Regions from separate parts of the Homo sapiens genome. Here region 2 is reported to be linked to region 1. Evidence: microRNA targets listed by miRTarBase, many of them from high-throughput screens and not tested one by one. Region 1 holds a microRNA gene; the other region holds the end of a gene's coding sequence.
The links. Region 1 holds the annotated microRNA hsa-miR-4698 (UCAAAAUGUAGAGGAAGACCCCA, at 4,604-4,626, opposite strand). A microRNA usually pairs through its seed, bases 2 to 8, with sites in the 3' UTR of a target mRNA and lowers its output. Matches are read on the target gene's strand: a 7mer-m8 pairs with bases 2 to 8, a 7mer-A1 pairs with bases 2 to 7 and ends in A, and an 8mer does both.

Region 1 (8,460 bases):
TTTGAATGAAATCATTTACCATTTGAATGAGCTCATATCCAAAAGGAGCACCCATTTGGATAGAGCCGATCAGTCTGCAGTATATACAATTTCACTTTGCTTACTGGTCATCTCCATTTTTTTTCCAGGCTACATATTTTTCTTATTTCAGCCTTCTAAACTCCCTGTTCTCTGCAGCCTATTTAATTGACTTTCATATCAAAGGAAAGTGAAAGCAAAAATAGGTTTTACTTATAATCAACATGCATTTACTGTTTGTCGTGATTTAGAAGCTCTTTGCTGGCACTATGGAAAGAGGCAAAAAAAAAAAAACAAAAAAAAAAAGCGTAGCCTCCATTTTTGAAATAGTTAAAGCAAGCCAGATCCACATAAAATAAGAAAACAGTAATTCTAGAACAATGTATAGATATTCTACAGTGATACGGGGTGGATTGAATACATTTATACAAAGGAGGCAAATTAAATTGGTGTTCTATTGAGTTGGAGTTAATGAGGATGTACAGAGAGAAAACAGTCAATCATTTCTGTGGCAAGCGCCATGTTAGGTGCTCCTATAGAGTATCTAAAGAAAATGATGTCTGAGTTAGCTCAAGAAAATGGTAATGGACTCAGATTGGCAAAGAGAAAGGCAGGCAAGTGGTTCTCATCAGAATCACCAGGTCCTTAAAAAAAAAAGCACAACACAACAAAACAAAAAAACCAAAAAAACCCCAAAACTTTTGTGTCCAGGCCGCACCCTCAGCGATTCTGCCTCAATTCCTCAGGGTGAGCAGCCCAGGTGTCCAGCTTTATGAAGGTTCCCAGGGCAATCTATTTTGCAACCTGGGCTGAAAACCTCTGCTTTAGGGCAAAGGCTGGATGATGACTATGCCCAAGTCCTGGGTGGAGAGAGGCAGGCCTGCGGTATTTCTTCTTCCGGATTGCAATGGAAACATGACTTCCCCCAATTTGCCTAGGATGAGAGTAAAGTGAATGCATTGGGTTGTGAACATGTGAACGTTTGCCTGGGGAGGGTCAAGGTGAGGATTTGGGAGAAATAATCTTTTGAGATCTTATAGAACTGCTGAATGCTGACACTGGGGTATAGAATTAGGAAGAAACTTAGAGATTTTAAACAAAAATAGTGGTCTCTGAGGAATTAAATGTATGGAGTCGTAAAGCTGGCAGAAGATAAAGGAGTGAAAAAAGTCTGGAAACAGACAGCTCAGGGCTTTAGGGTCAGTGGTGTCCCTTTGTAAAAACTGCTTCAATTCAACCTCATTTGTAAATGGGCATACTCATAGTAGCCCTGTGTGTCTGTTGGGAAGGTGATGTCACCAAGCCTATATTATAAAAATCGTAAGATGTTCATTTTACTTCTTCCTCTTTCTTTGTCCTTGTCTTCCTCCATGCATGTTTGCTTGCACATAGTCATTTCGTTAGAGGGTAGTCATTAATAAGTGATTAACTTCATATCCTGACCCCCAGGGGCTGTCTGCAAGATTAATGAACTGGTTTTTCTTTTAAAGAACAATGATCCTTAGGTCATGGAGACCTCCTTGATGGCATCCAGAAGTTCGATTGGCTGAGGGACACAAGCAGCTTTCATCATCAGAGAATCTCACCTCCCACATATCTACCTTACTCGTAAAAGCCCCCCAGTTATGTTCAAAGACAGGTGGGGTTTGAGAGGTGCCTCTCGCACCCTCATGCTGTAGCCAATTTGAATAACCTTTCTGTGCTCCTAAGCACTGATGTGTCAGTGTTTGGCTTACTGGCATCAGGTACTCAACCTAAATCTGCAACAGTATGAGATAACATGCAGAGAGCACAGAGTGCCATGCCTGCCACGCAGAAACCAGTAAGCATGAGTTAGTGTTACTATTGTTGTTTGAAAGGATCAAGATTCTGTGTAAATGAGTCACAGGTATCCCAGATGCAGGATTTGCATAGCTGCTATAAAGAGGGTTTCCCACTGAAACTGGTGTAGGCATAAAGAACCCTGTGTTTCTCGTACAAAGGGAATTGAGAGAAACCACTTCATCCTTAACCTGCAGGGAGCTGGAGGAAGAAAGACCTGGAAGAGGCGACCAAAGTGAATGCATGGGTGCCAAAGGTTGGAGACCAGGACAAGGAGGAAGTGGGTTAGAACAGATGGAACTTGGGTGAGGTCTGTATCTATTTTGGAAACTGAAGCCCAGAACTGGGGCCACAATGGGGCAGGCTTTCACTTGCTCCCATTTATGAACCAACCAGCACCATGGGAAGAACGGGGTGGGATAGACTGAGAGACAACTGAATTGTATGCATTTTTGCTTTTTGGCTGATTATTCCAACTCAGGATTACACGAACTAATGCATGTGAAAGCATTTCCTAAATAACAAAACACTATGCAAATAGAGTATTAACATTTTTCTTCTGTGTAGAATTTATACCTAGAGATTCCCTCAAGTGATACTGAAGTAGTTTCTGCACTTCAAGCAGGTGTCTGAGCACAGTGCATAGAGGAGGGTCTGTGGGACTGGGAGTGGCCAAGGGAGGAGCCGAGCAGGGCTGGAAGAGCTGACCCAAGAGGCAGCTCTTCTGTGGATCCCAAGCCTGGAGCAGCAGAAGTTATGCTGAGGTTTTGCCAAACATCCCCAGAGTCTTCTGTTTGGAAGTTTCAAGGATATGCATTTTGTTAGTAGGGTTAGATGAGGTGAAAATGCGAAGCTGGTGATAAACGAAAGTTGTGCTTCAAGAGTTTGGCTCCTAGTCCATGTTTATTAATTGTTTGCTGAAATGAAGACAAGTGTGAGATGGTAATATAACACTAAAGTGTGCTAATAAGTCCATGGTGCTATGCTGAAAGTGCAAATAAGACCTTGCAAGTAAGTCCATGGTGTTTTGGATTTGATGTTAGCGGTAGCAGAAAGCCACTAATATAAGCCTTGAATGGTGTTCAGGGATCTTGTAAACTACTGAAAAGTGAGGAAATAAATGTATGTCCAAGGTCATTCATTTATTTAGCGGCCTTTAAAGAGGAACATTTTCACTGTGAGATAATAGTTGCTGTAGTGACTTATTTAAGCAAGATTACAGGCTCTTCTCTAAACAGGGCTGCACCTCTCCATTCACGGCACAAGAATGCACAATAGACTGGATTTTGAAATCAGTCTGCCTTCTGCTAACCAAGCCATGCACCCTAGTGTAGGGCTGCATCTCCTCAGAGAAAAGGACACATTTTTCCACTTTGCACAAAGGCATCCAATGGGGTAATGGCGGCCCTGTCTTGAACAATCTAAAAACACAATGCATGCTTTTCTGCTTAGACAACTTCTCAGGGTCACTTTCAGACACTGGGCTAAGAACCAATGAAACAAGCAATAAAGCTGAAGAAAAAGAAGATAAAAAACAATCAAAATGTAAGATAGAGGAAATGAAAAAGAACAGCAAAGTGAGCTGAATCATGAACAGCAGGAAATCTCGAGATAAGTGGAGGCTGTCCCTACATATTTCTGGTACTTTGAGTAAACATGGAGAGAAAGTTCACAGTGACCTAATCAGAAGCAGAAATGAAAATGGGGCAAAATGCCATGTGGGGGCATTTTGCAATAAGAAGCAACAGGAGTCTGGCACCTAAATCCAGCAACTGTGTAGCCAGGGTTGGAAAAAGTCCAGGTTACCAGCAACATGCCTGTTTTTTACGGAGAATGAGTGAAATGAATATGCTCCCAATGGTCCTCTGAGTTCTTCACATTCATCCCAACTCCCTTGCTCCTCTGCTCCAGCACTGCAGTGGAACTGGATGGCTACAGCTTACATTGCACGTTTCAATTTGGGCGATGGATGAGAACTTCTGTACTATGTTTGCATCTGCAAGACTCTGCTACTCTTGTTTTTAACTTCTGGATGTTCAGGTACACATTGAAAAAAGGAAGTCCTTAACTCTGAGAAGCAGTATCGTCCTGAAACTACCTAAGAAATGGCTCAAATCCTTTCAATTTCCAAGGAAAGCAAAAGTTACACATTAGAAACTGAGATGACAATACCTAAGCATATAATTTCATTGAGATAGATTAGATTAGCTTCAGGGACATATATGGCTCACAGTATATTCCATGCTTCTCCATAGGCCAGGAAGATTTGCAGCTAACACCCTTCCTGAATTCTTGTCCCTATAGGGCTTTTGTGTGGGACATCATTGATCCCTATGAGTTCCAGCTGAGGAATTTATGACATATTCTATTCCCCCCTGAGATTAGCCTTTAATAATTTATTTATTCATCCAACATTTAAGAGACCCCAATGGTGTTAGATGCTGGGAACCCAAAGACAACTAAGGCAAGATCACTGTCCCCAAAGTCCTTAGTAAGGGGAGATAAGACATGTAATTTTTAAAAGCCACAAAATGCTATGGTGCCATGACAGAGGTATGTCTGGGGAACAGAAGGGACTCCAAGAAGGAAGAGGTGCTTCCAGGTAAGACAAACTGTGGAAATAAAGCAGCTATAGGGCAAAGAACTTGTTGCAGTCAGGAAGATGCAGGTAGATCAGGTGACCAATTACAATCCTGTTCTTGGAGCTGGTAGGATAAAGGACAGACCCAGGTGGAAGAGGCGCAGGTGAAAGTTTTGCTCCTTCTGGGGTCTTCCTCTACATTTTGACCCAGGCCCGTCTAGGTGGAAATGTAGAGGAAGACCCCAGGAGAAGCATAACTTTCCTTTAACCCATATATCACAAGACTTGGCTGCCTTATGATGAAGCTATAGTTCCCAAATATGTCTTCAATGAAGAAAATTTAATGTTTAGGAATTCTAGAACTTGCAGAGTTGGGAGTTGCCTGGGAGATGAAATGTTCTCTCCATCACCTCCAGCCCTTGGTGCTGAGTTCATTAGCATGTTTAGTTCTAATTTTAGCTATGAAAAAATATATTTTAAAATATTGACACATTTATTATTTAGTGCTGGATTTAACTGTTTACACTTTCACTGATAAAAGATTAAAAATATGTCTTACTATATACTGCTGCCTATAGTTAAAACAGCATCCCTGTTTCTCTTTTTCTCTCTTGTTCTCTATTTTTGAAACTGAGTTAATAATCCCCTTGATGTAGAGATGGGGGATTTTCATCAGTACCAGATCATTTCACCTGCCTTTTCTCCTCCCTGAGATTTCCAATTTCCTGGTGCTTCCTTTTCACTACATTTACCACCCATTTCTTGGTTTTAGGTAAGATCCCATGGTCTCTCCCTATGAACACTATCTCTCACATAGTGTCAGCATTTCTAACTTCTTACCCTGGAGCTATCCACCTGGATCTTTCACCTAAACTCCTGAGTGCTTCTGGAGAAGGTAAAGATCTGTTTTGAGATGAATCTCAAACACTGTTAAGTAGGGCAGCATTTCTAAAGTCCACAGAGCAGCACAGTGGTCCACCTTCAAGTGTGATAGGCACTACCCACTACCTCCCCAAGAGCCATTTTCCCTTCTTTCAGTGTGTTCAGGTGGTAAGGAGAGATCTTTGCTTCCAAGGAGAGTGGTCCCCGACTCCAGGATAGGCCTAACCAGTCATGGAAATCTCCTTCCCTTTATCAATTGGTTGTTCTTGGTTTGGGCATTTGACCTTGTTCTGGCCAATAGGATATAAAAAGAAATCAGCTGGAGATATCCTAAGTAAAGACAAGATTTTGTGCTGTGTTAATTTCCTTGGGCTGCCATCACGAAGTATCACAAACTGGGTAGATTACAACAGAAATGTAGTATCTCACAATTCTGAAGGCCCTCAGACTGAAATAAGGTGTCAGCAGGGCCATGCTCCTTCTGAAAGCTGTAGGGGAAAAAACCTTTTCTTGTCTCTTCCTGGCTTCTGATGCTTGCCAATGAAGGGGTTTGGATTATGCCACCCCACAATATGCCACTCTGGCATATGGATTATTTTGACTTGAAGGCAACTGAGAAAAAGCAGACCCAGGATGAGATCTCTGTCCGCCTCCTATCTGCCTGAAAACAGAACATAAGCTCCCCTTGTGAAAGTGCCCCCCTCTACCCCCCTACCAGTAAAGGGATAACATAAAGGGACAACACCTTATCACTGGAGACAAGATGTCATCCAGAGGAATCTACAAAAACAAAACGTATTAACTAGCCCTCATCTACCATAAGTTTCCCCATATATTTGCCTTCCCACAATTTGCTGCCCCTAGAAGCTCAAAGTCATTTTCCTTTGTCTTGCCACTTCTCTACAAAATTATTGTTCTTTGCTCAATTCTATGTAAGTTCAAGTTCTTTTTTTTTTTCTTTTTTTTTAGACGGAGTCTCACTCTGTCACCCAGGCTGGAGTGCAGGGGCGCGATCTTGGCTCACTGCAACCCCTGCCCCCTGGGTTCAAGCAGTTCTCCTGCCTCAGTCTCCTGAGTAGCTGGGATTACAGGGGCGTGCCACCACATCTGGCTAATTTTGTTATTTTTAGTAGAGATGGGGTTTCACCATGTTGGTCAGGCTGGTCTCAAACTCTTGACCTCGTGATCCGCCCACCTTGGCCTCCCAAAGTGCTGGGATTACAGGTGTGAGCCACTGCACCAGACTAAGTTCAAGTTCTAACCACTCCTTTGAATTACTTATTACTGAATACTCCTATGTGTATGTGCAATGCATATTTCAATAAACTTGTTTGTTTTTCTCTTGTTAATCTGTCTTTTGTCAGTCTAATATACAGTCTTTTTTTTTTTTTGAGACTGAGTCTAGCTCTGCTGTTGCCCAAGCTGGAGTAGTAGTACCACGATTTCAGCTCACTGCAACCTCCACCTCCCAGGTTCAAGCAGTTCTGCTGCCTCAGCCTCCTGCATAGTTGGGATTACAGGTGCCTGCCACCAAGCCCAGCTAATCTTTGTATTTTCAGTAGAGATGGGGTTTCAACATGTTGGCCAGGCTGGTCTCGAACTGCTGGCCTTAAGTGATCCACCCCCGTCAGCCTTCCAAAGTGCTGGGATTACAGGTGTGAGCCACCGTGCCGGGCCACTCTAATATGCAGTCTAATTTTCCCTAGCTGGAGAACCTAGGATGGGTACAGAAAAGGTAATTATTTTCCTCTCCTACACCAGCAATACTTGGCATTCCTCGGCTTGCAGCTTCAATACTTCAACTTCTGCCTCCTTCTTCACAGGGCTGTCTTCCCTCTGTGTGTGTCTCTGCCTTCACATAGCGTTCTCTTCTTGTGTCTGTCTCTGTTTTTTCTTTTTGTAAGGACATCAGTTATTGGATTAGGGCCCACCCTGGTTCAATATGACCTCATCTTAACTAATTACATTTGCATTCCAAATAAGGCCACATTTGCAGGTATCTGGGTTAGGATATCAACATATCTTTTTTGGGGACACAGTTCAATCCATATAAAGGCCTTTTGCTCCTGCCTTTCATCTACCTGGAGATGCAGCAACATCTTGTGACTATGAGGCTACAAACATGAGGAAACAAGTTTACAAGCTAAAGCTGGTGGAAAGGAAAGCTAGGGAAAAAGAAGGAGTCTGACAGCATTACTACACAGTTGAACTACTGCCAGCAACCACTCACCTCTAGACCTCTTGCTAGGTAAGAAAAATAACTCCAGGTTACTTAACCTCTGCCAGGTTTCTTTCACCTGTAGCCAAAAACATTCCAATGCATACACAAAACTTTCCCTAGTTCATAATAAAATTAGAAAAATAAGTAAGGTAATAAAATTTTCATAGATCTGGATTCATTAAATTTAAAGGACTAATCTTTGTTCTGAAATTATGTTATTCCCACTTTTAAAAAATTAAAATATCCTTTCTTTTATGAAATGACGGTATTTGTAGATTGTAATTTTTTTTTTTTTTTAGTGTCTTTGGTAAAAGAAGGAAGGAAAAAGGGAAGGGAAAAAGGAAGGAAGGAAGGGAAGAAAAAAGATTTCAGAAAGTCTTTCTCTAATTTTTAAAAATTCTTTTACTTAGCTTGTGAAACTCAAAAGTCTGTGATGAGAAGAATGCTAGCTAAACTTGCTTTGAAGGGCTAGAACCAGTGGTGTGTGCTGGAGCTGCTGGCAGCAGTTACCGAGAGCAGATGGTTAAATTTCCAGGAAGCTACTTGGCATCACCTGGATGGTTTGAAATCCAATGTGGCGGGAGTATTTGCATCATGGAAATCTGCAAATGCTATAAATCAAACCACCTCCCCTTCCCCAGCTGGTCGTTTACCAGCACACCACTGTCTCCAGCCTGCCTCTTGCAAGTAGCCAGAGGGTAAGCATGCAAGGTACAGCTCACACCAACTAAAACACACATGGGATTGAGGTAAACTTCATTTACTAATTTATACATTTACAATGGAAAATATTCTTGGCCTGGTGCGGTGCAATCCCAGCACTTTGGGAGGGCCAAGGTGGGAGAATCGCTTTAGCCCAGGAGTTCAAGACCAGCCTAGGCAACATAGGGAGACCCTTTCTCTACAAAAAAGAAAAAGAAAAGAAGAAAAAGAAAAA
Region 2 (7,597 bases), not on the chromosome of region 1:
CCATACAGAAGGAAATATAAGGGAATCAATCTGGTATCAGATGGTACCTGGGGATTTACCAAGTGCTTTGATAACAGCCTAAGTGAGCTCATCTGATAGGGACACAACTGTCGGGGGAAAGCCCCTACAGGCCTAAGAATCACCACAAAGTTTTTCTTTTTCATGCAAAGTAAGTGGCAATAACCACAATCTGTTCCTTGTTTAACAAGGCAAGCCGTTACTTGAAACAAGGTAAGATATAAAGTCTACAAATCATTCTTGCTTCTTTTTGTCTTCATTTGTTAAAATTGGAAAATTTTCATTGTGGAATATAACCCACATACATGAAAGTGCATAAAGCAAATGAATATTTTAATGTATTATTACAAAGTGAACTAACAGGTAACCAAAGTGGAGCTCAAGAAACAGAAAATTGCAAGCACTGCAGAACCACCTCCACCCACGGGATCACAACTTGAGACCATCTTAACTTCGCTTTCATGGTAAATGGTTTTCCGCGTGTTTTTATATGGATTCACTATTTAAGTATACATCCCTAAATTATATGGCTTGTCTATTTTTAAACTTCATATAAATGGAATCATCCAGTATGTTTTATGTGTGCATCTTTTGACCAATATTACAAATTTAGAATTCACACAACAGTAGGCTAGTTAGGCAGCTGTGCTAATCTTAGCTGAATTCAGTTGGCCTTTAAATTCAGGCCATGGGTTTTTGACCAGTTCTGATCAACTCCATGTGGCTCTGATTCATCTGGTACCCATGGACAAACTGAGGCATGCTCTTTTTCATGGTGATGGCAGAGGCGCAAGAATAAGCCCAATTGCTCAAACCTATTTCAAGCCTTTGCTTATGTCCACTAACATTCCATTGATCTTGGCAAGTCACATGGTCAAGCCTAACATCAAGGAGCAAGGAAATGCACTCGTTATTGGGAAACGGAGAGGACTGAATATTTGCTGAATAAATCCAAACTGGCACAGCACATCTATTCAACATGGTACTAGAAGTCCTAGCTAGTGCAGTAAGACAAATAAATGGATGGAAAGAAATAAAAGTTACTGCTCACGAGTGATATGAATGTAGACACGGAAAATCCAAAAGAATTGGCATATATGAGTTTGGCAACGTGGCTAATAAAACCAATATTAAAAAGTCTATATACCTATATTTCTATATACCAGCAAAAGGAAGTTAGAAAATAAAGCTGTAAAAATGTATTATATAAAAGCATTTTAGGCCGGGTGTGGTGGCTCATGCCTGTAATCCCAGCACTTTGGGAGACGGAGGCAGGTGGATCACCTGACGTCAGGAGTTCGAGACCAGCCTGGCCAACATGGTGAAAACCTGTCTCTACTAAAAATACAAAAATTTTAGCTGCTCATGGTGGCGGGCACCTGTAATCCGAGTTATTCGGGAGGCTGAGGCAGGAGAATCACTTGAACCCAGGAGGCAGAGGTTACAGTGAGCCGAGATGGCGCCATTGCACTCCAGCCTGGGTGACAGAGCAAGACTCTGTCTCAAAAAAAAAAAGCATTTTAAAATAGTACCTGGGAATAAGTATAACAAAAGATGTGTGGTATCACTATGAAGGCTATAATTCTATTGAAATATTTTTTAAAACTATATAGGTATATAACATACTCTCAGATTGGAAAAAACTGTTTTCACATTTATCTTACAGATTTAATGCAATCTATAGAGTCAAAGCATTTATTTTTCTCATTAATGGTCTGTCCCTAGAGGGAAATGATCTGCATCAAACTGCTCCATAGGTCTCCAGTCTTTCTAAATTTGATTCCAATGTTTTACTGTTAAGTGTATTTGTTGTAGTTTATAAGGATATACTTTATAAAATTAATCACTATTTCTCATTTACTATTTTTTAAACATAAGTGGTGAATTTTTATCAAATGTTTTTTCTGCATCTAAGACCATCATGATTTTCAAATGTTAATATGAAAAATTACTTAGTTTTATTCTGGTGATCAACTGAACTGAGCCATAATTGATCACATATTAAAGCAATATATCTATATATGCAGGTCATTAATATATTTAGTAAGCTTCCAGATTCAGTATGCTAACATTTTGTTTATAATTATTGCATCTAAAGTGACATTGGCATACAATTTTTTTTCACACTGTTCTTGTTGAGTTTTAGTCATCAAGGTTATGATAGTCTCATGAATTGCAGTCTACACTCTATCATTTGCAAGAGTTTGTGAAAAGCGATTTTACTCCTTAGTGTGTCATTCAGCTCACTGATGCAAGCCATATAGAACTGCAGTTTTTAGTGGAAAGGGTTTGAATTGCTAATTCAGTTTAATAGGGCTAGGACTTTCCCCCTTCCTTGTACAGTTTTGGTAAGCTGTATTTTTCTAGAAATTTTTGTATTTCATTAAAATTTTCAAATTTTTGAAAAAATTAATTTTCACCATCTGTAGAATTTGTAGTGATGTCCCATATTTCATTGACATTATTGCTTTCTCTTTTATTCTTAACTAGTATCAAGTTTATCAATACTAGTCTTTCCAAGCAAAAGCTTATTTCTGTTGATCTCATATGCTTGTTTTCTATTCTATGCATTTTAAGCACTTATCTTTAATTCTTTAATATTTCTTTGTCTATTTTCTTTACGTTTATTGTGTTCTTCATCAAACTCCTTAAGATGGATGTTTTGTCTTTAATTTCCAGCCTATTTTCGAATATATACGTATATTTAAACCTATAATTAGCACTAACTTTAATAAAGTTAGTACTAACATATTAACGTAGCCTTATCCAACCAGATCCACCTATTTTTATTTCAAAGTAAGATATACACACATACACACACACACACGCACACAGAAATGCTATGCAGCTGTAAAAAAATGATGTATTAACATGTAAATAGATCCACTTTATGATGGATAATAGAACTTTTACGTAAAGTTAAGAATAAAACAGCGCAGTTTAGCATGAATTATTCCTACTCTTTGTAAGAAGGGGCAGGTGGAGGTGGTGGCATCTTTTTAAATAAAGGAAATTTTCAGTCTCATAACCACTTGTTTCTCATTCAACACTGTAAATAGGTAATCAGCAGTTAACAAGTCAAGAAAATCAAAACTTTTTTCTGTATATTCTGATTTACCTACAGCAACACGATAAGAAAAATAAGAAAAATGTTTAATGAGCATGAATGACTAAATGAGGGAATATGGAAAAAAAGAAGTATCAACAGGAAGGCTTACAACAATTTCAACATGTTTTTTATTTGCTCACTTAACATTCCAAACAAAATGACATTTTACACTATTGCTTTTACTTAAGAAGTCAACTGCCTTATCCAAAGTAGACAAAAATCCCAATTCCTTTAAGTGTCCAAGTGGTACTTTTTCCCCCAGAGAAAGCTACTTGAATACTTTAACAGAAACATAGAATCGTCCTATAATAGTAAGGTAGTAGTTGGGTCTAACCTGTACTACATTTAAAACTTTTCTCATTAAAAAATGAATACAGAAAAAAACCCCAAACACCTCCAGTCATCATTCCTCTCAGATTTTTAACAATTCCACTAACCTTCATTAAAAATTGCTTTTGTAGAGAGGTGTATAAATATGAAAATGGAAAGTAAGCCTCCCCACACCTGTTCATAGAGAAGTGGGGTAGAGCATTTATCCTGAGAAAACTGCTGCTGGTCCCTGTTATTTCAAAAAGGATAATAAACATTATGGCCCACCAAGTCAAACCTCCTATCTTCTGTGCCATGATCATGTGTAACCTTTTCTGTTCTGGCTACGAGCATCTACTTTTCACACTCATGCGATTCTTCTCCTTTGAGCAAATCTTTGATGAAGTTGTATTTCACTGAATGTTCTCAAAGGGGAGAAAGAGTGCATGAGCAATTATAGTACTGGAACAAAAGTGAAGAGTACATATATTTTCACGTAGAAAAAATACATACAAATCCAAGTAGCTCCTAAAAATAGAAATCAGATGGGCATTTTTAAGAAAAAGATTGTTTTCTAAACTGTAAATGGTGCCAGTAAGACACTGATTTTTATATCTAGCTACATCACCATATTTATGTACAAAGAGAGGTTGGTATAGGTTCACTGATACCCCCAATTTCTCCCATTTCTTTAAAGATTGTCTTTCAGATCCTATTAAAACCATAACTGTTAATTTTTTAGACTACTTCCTGTCACTGGCACACTCTCTTCAACCTGGCACATACAAAAATTCATTTCAACATCTATTTACTTTTTTGATGCTAAAACTAACAATTTTTCGGCTACTTCAATGCCACAATATTCTATCACTACTTTGGCATTTTACTAATTATTATAGAAACAGGTAAGATTCTAAATATGGATTTTAAGACTATGTAAAATTCCAACTACATATGTCAAAAGGGAAAGTAGGAAGGTAGACACAATTATATTTTTGTTTTCATGTATATCATTGTCATGAGTCTGAAGCCTCATGTTGCATTCTAATTTACAACTGACATTGGTGACAGTTTGCTTGGCTTCTAGACTCAAACCCTAGAATTTATTAGTGGCTTTTAGATCAATTTGCTGTAAAACTATCTGAAATGGTTGCAGATTATTTTAAGCAAAAACAGAATGATACCTATAATGTACAAATGGAGGTGGATTTAAAGAACATATTATTGAGCAAGCTCTATAATGACATTTTCTTAACATCATCATAGTTTTTCTTCCTAGAAGGGAAAAAACTTACTTAAAATTTTCCCCTTCTTTACTTAAAGCATTCTTAAGTATATTGACAAATGTTTAAATCAGTTCAAGCTCTCAGCTGTTGGAAGATCAAAACACAAAGATAAGCATTTTCAACACAAACATCAAAAGATGAACAGAATTGCTTTCCATGTAATAGTTAATACCTTAATACAATGAACTTGTCAGGATTTTGCGACATATTGTATAGCTGGACAATAAAGCATGAAAATATTTTTTAAAAATTAAGTGAAGATATTCCCAAAGTTGAGATGTCCCCTACAAGAAACCAATTTTTAAATTCCTGTAATACTGAAAAGCTAAATTGCCACTATTGTAATAAAGTGAACCAAATTTTTAAAATAATTTTATCTTATTGAGAAACTAATTTTAACGCAAGCACTTTAAATGTATGTGCTATACAACACTGCATCTTATTTTCCAATTGGATATGTCTTACCACTCTTCTAACAAGTTTGAAAGAAAGAGGTCTGTCAACAGACACGAGCAAATACTTATAAAGTCTCAGGTCTTGCTCTATCACATACTAGCCAGTCCTTAAACACTTGATATATACCCACATTAAAAGGTGTGCTAAATATCGTCATGTTTTAGATGAAATTATGTCCTTAAAAGGTTGGTTTCTGTAGGATTTAAGGAGAACTTAAACTTTGCTGCTTTAAACTTTAGTTTTGCTATCAGTACAAATGTGTAAAACGCACCAAGAAGAAATCATTCCCATAAAAATCTCATCACTATATAATCGTTGACAGCACTTGCTGCCCTCCTGAGATTTTAGGAGAATAAAACTATATAAAATGCACAGTCATCAAGTCATCTTCAAGCTATTTTAGTATCCCACAAACCATTAACATAAAGTTCATACATGGTTATCTAAAAACACCATGGAGTCAAAGAGAAGCAAGAGTTAACAGTAAGTCAAATAAACCAATGATGTTTAACTGAGATTTTTTTAAAACTTAAGCTTTCTTAAGTTTCAAAGACAGTTTTACTTAAACAGAAACTGTCTTTTATAATCTTTTTGTCTTTTATATAATCAAGATTTTCTTGGCAAATACATCTCTTTTCGTAAACATACATAGGTAGAGAAGTTTCATATGTAGGTAGAGCGGTTTCATAAGCATACATAGGTAGAGAAGAAAACACTAAGGTTCTTTTCTACAACTGATAAAAAGCAAATACTGAAGATGAGAAAATGCCTTTAAGCTTTCAAATAACACTGTGGCATTTTAAAGTGTGTTATTTAAAAACAAAAAAGCTAGTCACCAATACTGTCATTCTCTCATCAGTTATGCTCAATAATCACAGAAACCCAAAAGGAGGCCCTAATTCTTTATTCTCTCTGCTGTATCTCTGCTCTATTTGCTACTAATGAAGCAACGTTATGACATGTAATTAAGATGCAAACAAAGAAAACCATAAAGAAACACTTGCTGTTAATTAACCTAGAAATAAAAATCAGACAAAATTAAAAACAGCCATTTCCAAACTAAAAACCAAAAAAATCTTAAAGAGCTTTGAAAAAGATACCAACTTGACCCTATAACACATAAAAACGAAAATTGATTTTACACATTTTAATCAATTTAATACAAATACCTGATTTATACTTTTACACCAACGGGCTAAGTCCCAAGTTCCAAACTGTAGTTCGCATGACTCTACAGAGGGGATCTTTGGAAGGATAAGGTACCTTTGGAGAACAGTGTATAAACAATTGTAAACATACACTGATTGTCCACTAGCTTTCTTAAATAGAATTTCTGAAATATTTTTGTAGGAAATTATATATAAGAGTGTAATTGATCAGATAATTCCTATTACAACATATAAATTCTGTTGAATGTGCAAAATGTGGTAGAAATAGAAGATACAGTGGATGATTTATACTTTTAAAGTAAGTGCTACATTACAATCCAGTAAAAGTCCTTTAATCTTTTCATGAAACTTCTCTCTATACAAATTGAAATACATAATGCTTTCTGGTTCTTCTTCAAACCAAAACTTGTCAAATTCATAGACAAGATAACCTGCAGTTAAAGAAAAACAAAACATTTAATCCTCAATGTTGAAATCACATTCAAACCGTCTCATCTTTACAAAGTATATAACCATCCTTTAAATTCCATATTAGAATACAATAATCAAAAGTAATCTCAAAACTATTAGAAGCCTGAGGGACTTAATAAGACTTAATAAACGATTTAGTGTATATTTACTATTTGTCTCAAAAATCAACAACGTCCCTCAAGTTTAAAAGATATAGTACTTTCACCTGGGAGCAGTGACTCATACCTGAACTCTCAGCACTTTCAGAGACTTAGGTGGGCAGATCGCTTGAGGCCAGGACTTAAGAGACCAGCCTGGGCAACATGGTGAAACCCCATCTCTGCAACAAACACAAAAATTAGCCAGGCATGGTGGCATGCGCCTATTGTCCCAGCTACTTGGGAGGCTGAGGTAAAGGTATCACTTGAGCCCAGGAGGTCAGGGCTTCAGTGAGCCGTGATTGTACCACTGCATTCCAGCTTGGTTGAGAACCTATCTCAAAAAAAAAAAAAAAAAAAAAAAAAAAAAAGATGTAGTACTTTCAAAAGATACCTTGAGAAAAGTTTCCCGAGAAACTTCCAAAGCACAAAAATGCAAGTAACGAAAAAATGTTGGATAAGGTTAAAGTGTAGGAAAGTTATTTCCTACTCGATTTCTAAATCTAAGAGTTATTTCTACTTTTTTTTCAATGAACTATCAGCATCTTCTCTTTTTTAAAAAAATACATCCACTCTAAATCGGCTTAATATTTTTGGCTTTCAATATCCTCATTATGGTAGCCAAATTAACCCCCAAAATGT

Region 2: miRTarBase lists ELMOD2 as a target of hsa-miR-4698. Seed matches in the 3' UTR shown: 7mer-m8 at 6,597-6,603 and 7mer-m8 at 3,281-3,287.

Annotation. Positions count from the first base shown.
Region 1 is chr12:47,184,026-47,192,485 of GRCh38, reverse strand. MIR4698 (microRNA 4698) reads right to left here and starts at 4,674; the gene lies at 4,595-4,674. The region is part of intron 2 of PCED1B (PC-esterase domain containing 1B); the gene reads right to left.
Region 2 is chr4:140,549,411-140,557,007 of GRCh38, reverse strand. It overlaps ELMOD2 (ELMO domain containing 2), which reads right to left. Exons shown (of 9, transcript NM_153702.4): 9 at 3,238-6,778. The coding sequence ends at 6,633. Among named protein-coding and RNA genes, the nearest start is that of UCP1, 16 kb to the left of the region's middle.